Regions from separate parts of the Homo sapiens genome. Here region 1 is linked to region 2. Evidence: fine-mapped expression QTL. A gene starts in region 2. The other region holds a variant in brackets. All regions are shown on one strand. Distances are between the middles of the regions.

Region 1 (5,379 bases), 64 kb before region 2:
TGTTAGATCTTGGGGATTATCTAGCCAACCTCCTCCTATTTGACAGATAAGTAAACCAAGACCCAAAGAAAAGCAAGTTGCATACAGAACAGGGCTATTATGGACTGAGCCAAGAGCAGAGCCCTTGTCTCCTAACCCCCAGGTCATCTCTTCCTAGAATTGCACTAAGAGGTAGCCACTAGCCATGTGTGGTTATTTCCCTATAAATACATGAAAATTAAATCAAATTAAAAATTCAGTTTCTCAGCCATACTAGCCACATTTGAAGTACTCAAAAGCCCCATGTGGCTTGTGGCTACCACCATATTGGGTGGTGCAGATACAGAACATTTCCACCATTGCAGAAAGCTTTATTGCTCTAGCACTGGGCTAGAACCTGGCCTTTCATTTGAAGGCAGTAGGGAAACTGGATGGTTTTACCAATGTTTTCTTCCCTCAAGCAATTACTGCAGAAGATTAACTACAAGAGAATGTGGTTGTTGTTAAAGTAGCTTAACAACATCATTTTAACAAACTAGAATTATATACACATAAACTGGAAGAACAAAACCACGCAAACCAACTAGGCCACTGAAACTCCTCCCACTAGGCCAAGATGGGTCTTAGATGCCTTATCTAAGAACCAAATCAGATGCACATAAGAGTCCATTTCAAAGCTCTGGCTGGTCTGAAGACTGAAAGGTATAGGGTGCATTTCTTATATCTGGTAGCTTGGAGAGGAGTATAGTTAGGAGAAATAAACCCAAGGAAAGAAGACTGCTCTGCATAATAAAGTATTAACTGTAAGGTGGATGAATGGGTAGAAATTGTTTCTCTTCTTCCTTGTAGATGTATATTGTAATATCTAAGATTATTTGTCCATGGAAGGTGTGTTTGATCCAATAGTTAACCAATGGAAACACTGAAAAATACAAGGCATCTGTTCAGTTCTAGAAGGGAGACCTTAAAAGTGACCAGACTTGGGAGTATCCTTCCCTACCTACTCTGGACTACACAGACATGGAGAAAAGCACTGCATGGAGAAGGATTAGAGGATTAGAGATCACAGCATCATAAAACAGAGGTTTGTTTTGGTGAGGGAAGCATCTGGAAGACCAAGGGCAGAGCTAGGAAGTGTAGTTTCACCCCCAGAGGACCCCTGCACAGGGCTCAGCAGCTCCTGGGGCTCTTCCCTCAGATCATAAAGACAGTCAGATGACTATATATACGGGTTCACATTTTCCCTTTGAATTCTCTGTAGCTCTTCCAACCCTTCAGAAAAGTCTTGATATACCTATACAAACTTGTCTAGCAGTGGTTTGGGGAACATGGGGTGGGGCAGTGAGAGGGAGTGTGGGCTGCCCGACAGTTGCTCCCTTGCTGATGTCTTTGTGGAGGGAGCAGTGTGCTGGTGAGGGAACTCTTGTGTGTCCAGGAGTTCCAGATAATGAGCAGATAAAGAACCCACAGTGGAGTGGGGGTGGAAGGCAGATGACTCACAGATATTACAGAGAAAAGCTGAGCCTGGTGGAGGTGGGTAGGACTGACGCTTCTGTCATATAGGTGCGCTCACGTACACACAAATTACCATTAGACAATCAAGGTGAACTTGAACCAAATTGATTTGGATAAGATTTATTGATCAGATTGTTTTAGAAAACCAACAGCAAAACACTGACAAGGTACATAAATACAGATTGGACATTTTAGGGTAAATTCACTGTATTTCCTACTTGCTTGTAGGAAACCGAGTAAAGTGGAAAAGCTGTCCTGATCATATGGCATGCACACCAGACTGCAAAAGGACGTCCACACTATTTAACAGGACTGTGGCAAAATAGCTTTAAAGTAAGGCGAGCATTGTGTATGGCCCAAGCATACCCTGTAGGAAGAGCAAAGCTAGGCTCACCTCTCAGAGACTGTGTCTCAGAAAGAGGCTTCCTTTCTTGCCTAGGTTCTTCCATGAAATTCGTCATTGGCAGGTGCTTTTCCAGGGAGATGCCTGTGCTCTCCCTGTGCAGACTCTGTGCACAAGGAAGTGGCTTTAGAGAGTGTGTTTTCTGATGCCTCCTTTATATTCTAAATGTATAACTAGTAAAACAACAATTACTACCGCTTGGTGAAATTGTTTTTTGTTTTTT[T/GTTTTTTT]CTGAAAACTGCCTCTGACTCCACCCTGTACACTGACTAAGCAGGGCCCTTAAAAAACTTATAAAAAGTTGTTTTTTTTTTTTTTTTTTTTTCAAATTAAAAACATGAAAATTACACCAAAAAGATGGAACTACTTTTGTAGCACAACTCAGAACTTCTGTTCGTAACACCGGACTAGAGAAGAGGTCGCTTTTGGCTGAATCTAATGACCTTAGAAGGGAAAGGCCATTGCTGGGCAGGATCTGGTGGCAACGCACACGGAAGTCCTAGAACTCTATGAAGCCTACCTCAGGCCCTGCGGGTGCGTCTGGAGTTCCAAGGCATTTGGGGAACCAAAGCAATTTCAGCTAACAGTGACCAGTTTTTAGAATGGAGCTTATGATCAGAGGACCATAAACCCTCATCCACCCTAGAGCTCAATGCCAGAAAAATAAAAAATAATACAAAAAATAAAGGAAAATAGCTTTTTGTGCTATATCAGAATGCTGGCAGGTAGACAATTCAGTAACCTGTGCCACTTTCTAAACATCTGTAAGACCACAAAAAAAAAATGGGTTTTACAGAATACGAAGACCAACACAGTCTTAGAGGATCATTCAACCTTTCCTACATGCCAAGCTGTGTGATTGGAAAATAGAAGAGCCATAGCTCTTGCAAGATTAGAGGAAAAGCAAGTATTTGTCAAGAGCCAAAGAAATGTGTTCAAATAATGGAGTTTCCTCTGTGTCGCACACAGCTTTTCCTTCCCGTAGGTACTAAGAGTTCTTTGGTGGTTAGAGAGATGGCCTGGAGCTCAGGGCAGGAGATGACGCTGAAGAGCTACATCTACTCAGGATTACCACCTGTGGTTCCTAATTTCAGCATTCAACTCTAATTGTTCAGCCTGACTAATTACAGGCAATCAGCTGCTTATATGGTCACTGGTTGTCAGCTCCTACTGATTATTCCTTTTCCTTTTCTACCTACTCATTAACCCCATTCCATGGAAAAACAGGTGCTTACAGGAAAGGATAGGGAGGAAAAAGAAATGTAAATGAATCTATTGTTTGGTAGGAAAGTTGATTCACTGATTATCTATGGATTTCAATGATCTGTGCTTTACTCTTGCTACTGTGGATAACCAAAGGTCACTGTTAACGTATCTTTTGCTTAAAAATGTTAATATGCTTATTATGCTTTAAAATCTAGCTATTTAAGGGCATGAATGGTTTAAAGCAAATTTTTACATCATGTCATTATGGCCCTGAAAAAAGGAGATTCTGCCAATGGAAAGGGTTTTGTTTAGCCCCAGTTAAGATTTCAACCTATTCTGTGTCAGTTTATAGTTTTTCCAGGATGTGGAAAATATTAAATGAAGAAAGCATCATTTTCTTCATTTAATAAAGTATTACATTCCCAGATAAATTAGTATATACATAGGAGAATGGTTAGTGTTAAATACTAGGTTTTAATTCTCCGTTTAGGAAACTCCTTACAGATGGACTTCCTTGTTCTCCGGCAACAAAATGTAAGACATGCAAACATGAGAGAGTACAAAGATGACAGGGAGAAAAAAAATCTCAACTCTAACAAACCTAAGGAACAATGAGTCTCTAAGAGTTGGAGTAAGAAAACATGGACTTGAAAATCCAGCTTTATCATGACATGAGTTGGCTTAAGCCAGCTGATCACATCTAAAATTCTTGGCATAATTTGAACCTAAAGTAATGAGCTCACTTCCCCAAGATGCAAAAAAGTAGTCTACCTGCTTTATAGTTACACCCTATATATAATCTGTATATATCCATATGTTTCTATATATTGCACTTAAATTTACAGGACTGTAGTAAGACGGCTGGGAGTACCTCAAAGAGGCAGAGAAGCAGCAGGCATAAACTTTCCTAAATCAAGTAAACAGTGTCAGGAATTCCGAGTGCTGGTTATAGGTATACCGAAACGCCTGATGACCCCTATCTAATTTCTAGTTATCTACACTTAGTCATTTACACACAGTCTCATTTGGCATCCAGAACATGTACACATGTGTGGTTCTATAGCACTCAGTGCTGGTCATACCATGTCATTTTTACTAGTGTTATATTAAAAGAAGACACTTTAGACCAAGGATATATACTTTTATGAAAATAAAACACACAGGTCTTCGATGTCAGGCCTCCAAGGTCTACCTCAAAGAAGACTGCCCTCAGAAGGCTTAACAAAGGATGCCAGCAAGTATGGATGGAACCAGACCACATCTCTCTTCAGCTCTCTGGTGTAGCAGGGCTAGAGACTCACTTCTATCCTAAGGACCATGAAAGTCTAAGCACAGAGGCTGAGCATTCAGTCTTTGGTCCCTGTATAAATCCAGGTCAAAAATCCTCTTGCCACCCTGGACAGCCTGGCTTGTTCAATTTAGAATATATTTCCACCAAATATCCAGAGGCCAGGCTGAAGTCATGCAGCAAAGCTCTGTTTTGGACTAATGGAGCTGCTCAGACTGACTTGCTCTGGGAGAGAACGGAGGAGCAAGCCTGGCAGTGGTGGCAGGAGGTTAAGTGCTACACAGACTGGTAATGGCAAGATGTGGGAGGATGGGCCCCTAGAGGAGCTGCTCCTTTTTCTGCCTCTCTCCCACATTCCTCACTCCCCAGAAAGGACCCACGTTCACAGGTGCGTGGTTATTATAAGACTTCCCAGAATACAGGCTCCATGAACTCAACCCATCACAGAGGGGATGGTATGATAAGGCCTAGAAATCAGGAGCATGTCTGGAGGCTACGGTTTTCTCTTTCCCAGAACTGAACACCAGATGGTAGCTTTTTAACCGTAGCTCAAAGGTCATTTTAAATCCACACATAAGCTAAAGAGATCCCTTCTGAGATGAAGGACAAAGAATAACTTTAAAAGCTAGGTGAAAAAAGAGGCACTTAAAGGAAAGATGTGTTCCAACTCTCCCATGCGAGTCTCCTGCTGTGAGTTGGCCCCGGGAGGACCAGCGCTGCCCCTTGCACGCCTTCAGCACCTTGAGTACACCTGCGGCTTACACATGCGCATGGTGAGCCTCTTGCTCAGCTCCCCTAGCAGCCAGATGGCAAAGCGAGTGAAAATTTATGTCATTCTTTTTAGAATTAAAAAAAAAACAAATCAAACAAACCAGAACTAAAATTTCACACACACAAAATGAATGCTACTCAGTTTCATTCCTTCCTCATGCTAGTTTTTAAATGATACTTGGTTCTTCAGGAAGGATGACCTGTGGCTTTACCCCCAAGACCTTGTA
Region 2 (5,334 bases):
AGGATCACTTGAGGCCAGGAGTTCGAGCCCAGCCTGGCCAACATGGCAAAAACCCATCTCTACCAAAAATACAAAAAATTAGCCGGACGTGGTGGCCCGCACCTCTAATCCAGCTACTTGGCAGACTGAGACAGGAGAATTGCTAGAGTTCGGGAGGCAAAGGTTACAGTAAGCCAAGACTGTGCCACTGCACTCCAGCCTGGGCCACAGAGTGAGGCTCTGTCTCAAAAAAAAAAAAAAAAAAAAGACAAATAGGATTTAGAGGTCAAAAGAGAGAGACAGTGAGCTATACTATAGTTTTTTGTTGTTGTTGTTGTTGTTTTTTAATTTTTAACTTGAGATGTGGTCTTGCTTTGTTGCCCAGGCTGGCCTTGAACTCCTAGGCTCAAGTGATCCTCCCACCTTGGACTTTCAAAGTGCTGGGGTTACAGATGTGAGCCACCACGACCAGCCGCTATAGTACACTCAAAAAAATAAAAAATTTGGCTGGGCGAGGTGGCTCACGCCTGTAATCCCAGCACTTTGGGAGGCTGAGACAGGCAAATCACCTGAGGTCAGGAGTTCAAGACCAGCCTGGCCAACATGATAAAATCCCGTCTCTACTAAAAATACAAAAACTAGCCTGGCGTGGTGGTGGGCGCCTGTAATTTCAGCTACTCAGGAGGCTGAGGCAGGAGAATTGCTTGAGCCTAGGAAGTGGAGTTGCAGTGAGCCGAGATCGCGACACTGCACTCCAGCCTGGAGGACAGAGTGAGACTCCATCTCAATAAATAAATAAATAAATAAATAAATTTAAAATAAAAGGTTTTATCTCCAAGGCCCGTCAACCAAGCCTAGACATCCTATTCCTCCCCATCACCTAAAATCTTTTAAAATCTATCAAAATGCAAGAAAAGGGAGAGGCTTAAAATGCAATACCTAGCAGAATAAAGAATTGGTATGAAAGAATTTCAAACTACATAATACATTGAGGTATCAGATGTGTCCCAATTTTGAGAATGAGTAAAGGAGCAATGAAGTGTCAGTCAAGAGAAAAGGGAAGCAGAAAAAAGAGACTGATGACCCCGCTTTACAAATTTTCACAGTTTAGACACGTTTATCTTTACCTCCGGATAAATGGCTGTTCTTGGTCTTGTGTGCTAAGGGAATGCAGAAATAGCTCTACACTGAAGCCCCTTAGCAGAAATCATGGCTTCCACTGCCATCACGTGGTTGAAGTGAGGAAGTGCACCAAGCAGGTTCTAGGAACCTAGGAATGCCTACTTGAAGCCCATGGTATAATTAATCCGTGATCAAAGACCTAAAGATTGCGGTAGTAGAGGGCAAACTGGTGACAGTGTTTGCTAAGAGATTCATCTTCTAAGCTGCCAATACACAAAAATCTAAGTTTTTATTATTAATTGGGAGTAAGAAAAAAGATTGCTCCTTTTTTCTTTTTCATGTTAAAGATCGTATATTTAGCAATTCTAGGATGCCCAGTCTGATATTAACGTCTCAAACCCAACTTCTGGTATATTATATGACTACTTACAAATGCCTCGATTTAATGCATATAAATGGGGTAATGTACATTTCTAGCACACATCAACAACCTCATCACGAACATAAGCAATTGTCTCATTAAATGTGCTAAATTCCCTTTGTCATCTTCAATTTAATCAAATAATAATTTTTGACTAGAAGTATAAGGTACAGTCTTAAGCACAATTCATAAAAACCAATTCATCATGTTCTCAAAACTCATCAGCTAAACAAATATATCACTAATATAATCAATATTATTCACAAAAAACACGATGAATAATTAACACATCATTCCTGATAGTTCTTTTCATAGTAAAAATAAGCTTGCCCAGTGGGATATTTGACGTTCTCTGCATTATTTAATTCCCTACCTTCCTTCTACTAGATTGAATATTCAATTACAAACATACCTCTTTAAAATTGTCTACACATACATATCCACTTGATTTTATTTTGTTTTCAAAAGCATCTGAACTCAAGGCTAGGGCACTGTAGACCAAAATGTCAAATAATTGTATTGGGTACATTTTTCCAATTCTCAGTTGTTTTTATATTGTAAACACAGCATAATTGTGTCACTAAGTATATTTTTGATCTTCACTTTCTCCCCTTAAAACCTAGACACCATTATCCTGTCTCTGAACATTCCAAAATATTAATAATCCAACTAGTTTTCCCTAATCCTCTAGGTTCTCTTTCCCATACACTCCCCAGCCAACACTCCCCCACCCCTTTCTTCCGTTTCAGAATGCCTCTTACACACACGCCCCGTGTAGTTTTTACAAAATCACTCCTTGGAATGCGTTTCCTTCTTCTCTCCTTAACTTGGCACCCTTTTTGAAATAATTTCCCACAGCTAGGCGCCAATGTCTTTCATTTACAAGATCAAACTGCGGAAGGGGAAGAGATTGGGAATCGAGTAACCGAAACATTTGGAAATGTCAATGAGACAGTGGCCTCTCCTTTGAAAAGAAAACACAACTCTCAGCACAGAGCTTTCAACAGAGCACAGATACTTTTCTTCGCTGTGCTCCTGTTCCCTCCCTGACCTCAAAGACACCTTCCCTTTTCTCTGATCCCCAGTCCCTCTGCTATGCGTGGGGCCTGCCTTTCCTCCTCCCAAGGAAAAGCAAGCCAGGGAGAAAAAGAAAAGGTAGCAGTCACCTTCCCGCCCGCAAGCGGTCAGGACCCTGTCCCACGACTCACCTGGCAGGTGCGGCCGCCCGGAGAGTTGCACGAAGCGGTTGAGCTGGCCAGTCCCCCGACCCCCGCTGCCCCCACTGCCCCCGCCGGCCCCGCTACCTCCGCCACCAGCGCCGGCGGCGCCTCCTCCCCTCCGGCGGTTCCTGTCCCAGCCCTGGGCGGCCGACATGACCCGCTAACGATTGCCGCAGCCCGGTCCCGTCAGCGCCTGACCCAGCGGAACCAGCGGAGCCTCCTTCCTGGGCTCCTCCAGAGACCCAGGAGACAGGGGAAGGGGGCAGCGCCCGGTCCCACCAGAGACCAATGACTTACCGCCTTGGTGAAAGGCAGCCAATGGTCAGTCGTTTTCTTGGTAGGTGGCGGGAGGCGGAGAGAAACGTGGTAACCATAGCTATGGCTAAAAAAAAAAAAGTAGGGGGAGAGAAAGGCAGAAGCAGCCACTCCTAGCTCTCATCGTCCGCTCTGGGCTGGCCGGCGTCACCCCGACTCCTGCGGGGCCAGGCGGGCCAATCGAAGACCGAGTGTCAGAGGCCGCGCCTGCGGAAAGACTCCCGGGGACGGCCAGTGCCTCAGTCTTGGTTAGGATTCAGGAACTTTTTCCCATAAACATTGCAATCAGACACTGGATATACGCATAATACACATATTTGGGGGCAAGACGGTATTCTGCCAGCTTTTCAGATTGAGATCCCATTCACTGATGGTTGACACACACAAAGGGCTTGCTTGGGGTCCGGGTAGGTGAGGGGACCCAGGGGCGGAGTCAAAGCTAAAATGTAAGAACCAGATATTCCTGGGTTTCATTTGTCTTTCAGTCGGCTTAGCTGCATTTGTCCCTGTATAAGCCACGTCCCAATCAAACAGTTTTAAACCTGGTTAACAAATATGGGAAAATGTTCACTCTCACCTGTAATCTTAGAAATACAAAATAAAACCCCAATGAGAAACCATTTCTGGTTTATTACATCAGTAAAGACTTTTCAAATAACACCTGGCAGTGTGTGGAATGCCAAGAAAAAGGTATTCTCATAGATGGCTGATGGCTCTGTAAATATTTTTGTTCGCTCAAACTCCTTTTGGCTAGTAGAAAATTTTAATCAGCTTGGAAGATATATAATCAAGAGGAAATGTAAAATTAAATAAAAGGCAGCAACGGGTATGGAAGATCAAGATCAAAGAAAATTTTTAATGTGCCGATCAGGAGTTTCTATTGTTCCAAAATTAAACAGAAATTTTGGCTTGAAACTTACTGGGCGCAATGCAGACTGGGAAAACATACTATACACTGATGTTTCTGAATGATAAGGAAAAAGCATATCAAATTCCTCAAGGGAAACAAAACTTTTCAAGGTCCTTAGATGTGACAGATTTTTTTTTCTTTTGCATTAGAAGAACCTTACATGGTTGCAGAGAAAAAAAAGAAACTCTGCTGGAGCTGAGGACAAATACCCTTTGTACCTGGTGTGCAAATTTCTGGTCGCCACTGGCACTGCCTCCTTGTTTTCCTACTTCCAGTCCCTGTAGGCAGAAATGTTTTAGTCACTAGCACCATAGCACGCTGCTTATGAAAATGTTTGAGACTTGAAAAAAAAAAAAGCCTATGGTTCTAAAATATAAAAACCAAAATTAATATATGTTAACTGTTTTTTTTTTTTTTTGAGACGGAGTCTTACTCTGTCGCCGAGACTGGAGTGCAGAGGCATGATCTCGGTTCACTGCAACCTCTGCCTCCCAGGTTCAAACAATTCTCCTGCCTCAGCCTCCCAAGTAGCTGGGATTACAGGCATGTGCCACCACGCTCTGCTAATTATATTTTTAGTAGAGATGGGTTTTCACCATGTTGGTCAGGCTGGTCTCCAACTCCCCATCTCAGGTAATCCACCTGCCTTGGCCTCCCAAAGTGATGGGATTACAGGTGTGAGCTGCTGCGTCTGGCCAGTTTTTTATGTATATAGGCAAAATGCAGTCTTACACATTTTACATGTTTAACCTGTCTAATCCTCACAGAAATCCTATGAAATGCTGTTTTCCCAATTTGCAAAGCAAATTTGTAGAGATAGGGCAGTGTGTGGGGATGAGGGGGTGGTTTTGCCTTGTTGCTCCGGCTAGTCTAGAACTCCTGGCCTCAAGCCATCCTCCTGCCTTGGCCTTCTAAAGCATTGGGTTATAGGCATGAGCACCACGCCCAGCCAAAGTAGATTCTTAAGTAACACTTTTTAATTAATCAACTGGGAGAGATGAAATAAGAAAATAACATATAAAGTTTTGGTTGGGCGCGATGGCTCATGTCTGTAATCCTAACACTTTCTGTAATCCCAACCCTTTGGGAGGCCGAGGTGGGTGGATCACCTGAGGTCAGGGGTTCAAGACCGCCTGGCCAACATGGTGAAACCCGGTCTCTACGAAAAATTCAAAAAAATTAGCCAGGCGTGGTGGTGGGTGCCTGTAATCCCAGCTACTCGGGAGGCTGAGGCACGAGAATTGCTTGAACCCGGGAGGCAGAGGTTGCAGTAAGCCGAGATCGTGCCATTTTCACTCCAGCCTGGGCGACAAAGCAAGACTCCGTCTCAAAAATACATACATACATACATACATACATACATACAT

Alleles and levels. Positions count from the first base shown, and alleles are read on the strand shown. Sizes are in standard deviations (SD) of each study's normalised expression.
For the expression in prefrontal cortex of the gene that starts at base 3,006 in region 2, allele T in region 1 goes with a higher level than allele GTTTTTTT (large effect, 0.80 SD a copy in ROSMAP).

The links.
Region 1: its variant is fine-mapped to the expression of KLHDC10 in prefrontal cortex (ROSMAP, PIP 0.90).

The regions. Positions count from the first base shown.
Region 1 is chr7:130,131,925-130,137,303 of GRCh38, reverse strand. KLHDC10 (kelch domain containing 10) reads right to left here. Exons shown (of 10, transcript NM_014997.4): 10 at 1,599-5,379. Among named protein-coding and RNA genes, the nearest start is that of LINC03008, 7.1 kb to the left of the region's middle. The variant T/GTTTTTTT (reference allele first, on the strand shown) is at 2,121.
Region 2 is chr7:130,068,206-130,073,539 of GRCh38, reverse strand. KLHDC10 (kelch domain containing 10) reads right to left here and starts at 3,006. Exons shown (of 10, transcript NM_014997.4): 1 at 2,731-3,006. The coding sequence starts at 2,896. RefSeq lists a silencer at 2,802-2,971 and enhancers at 3,072-3,261, 3,292-3,491.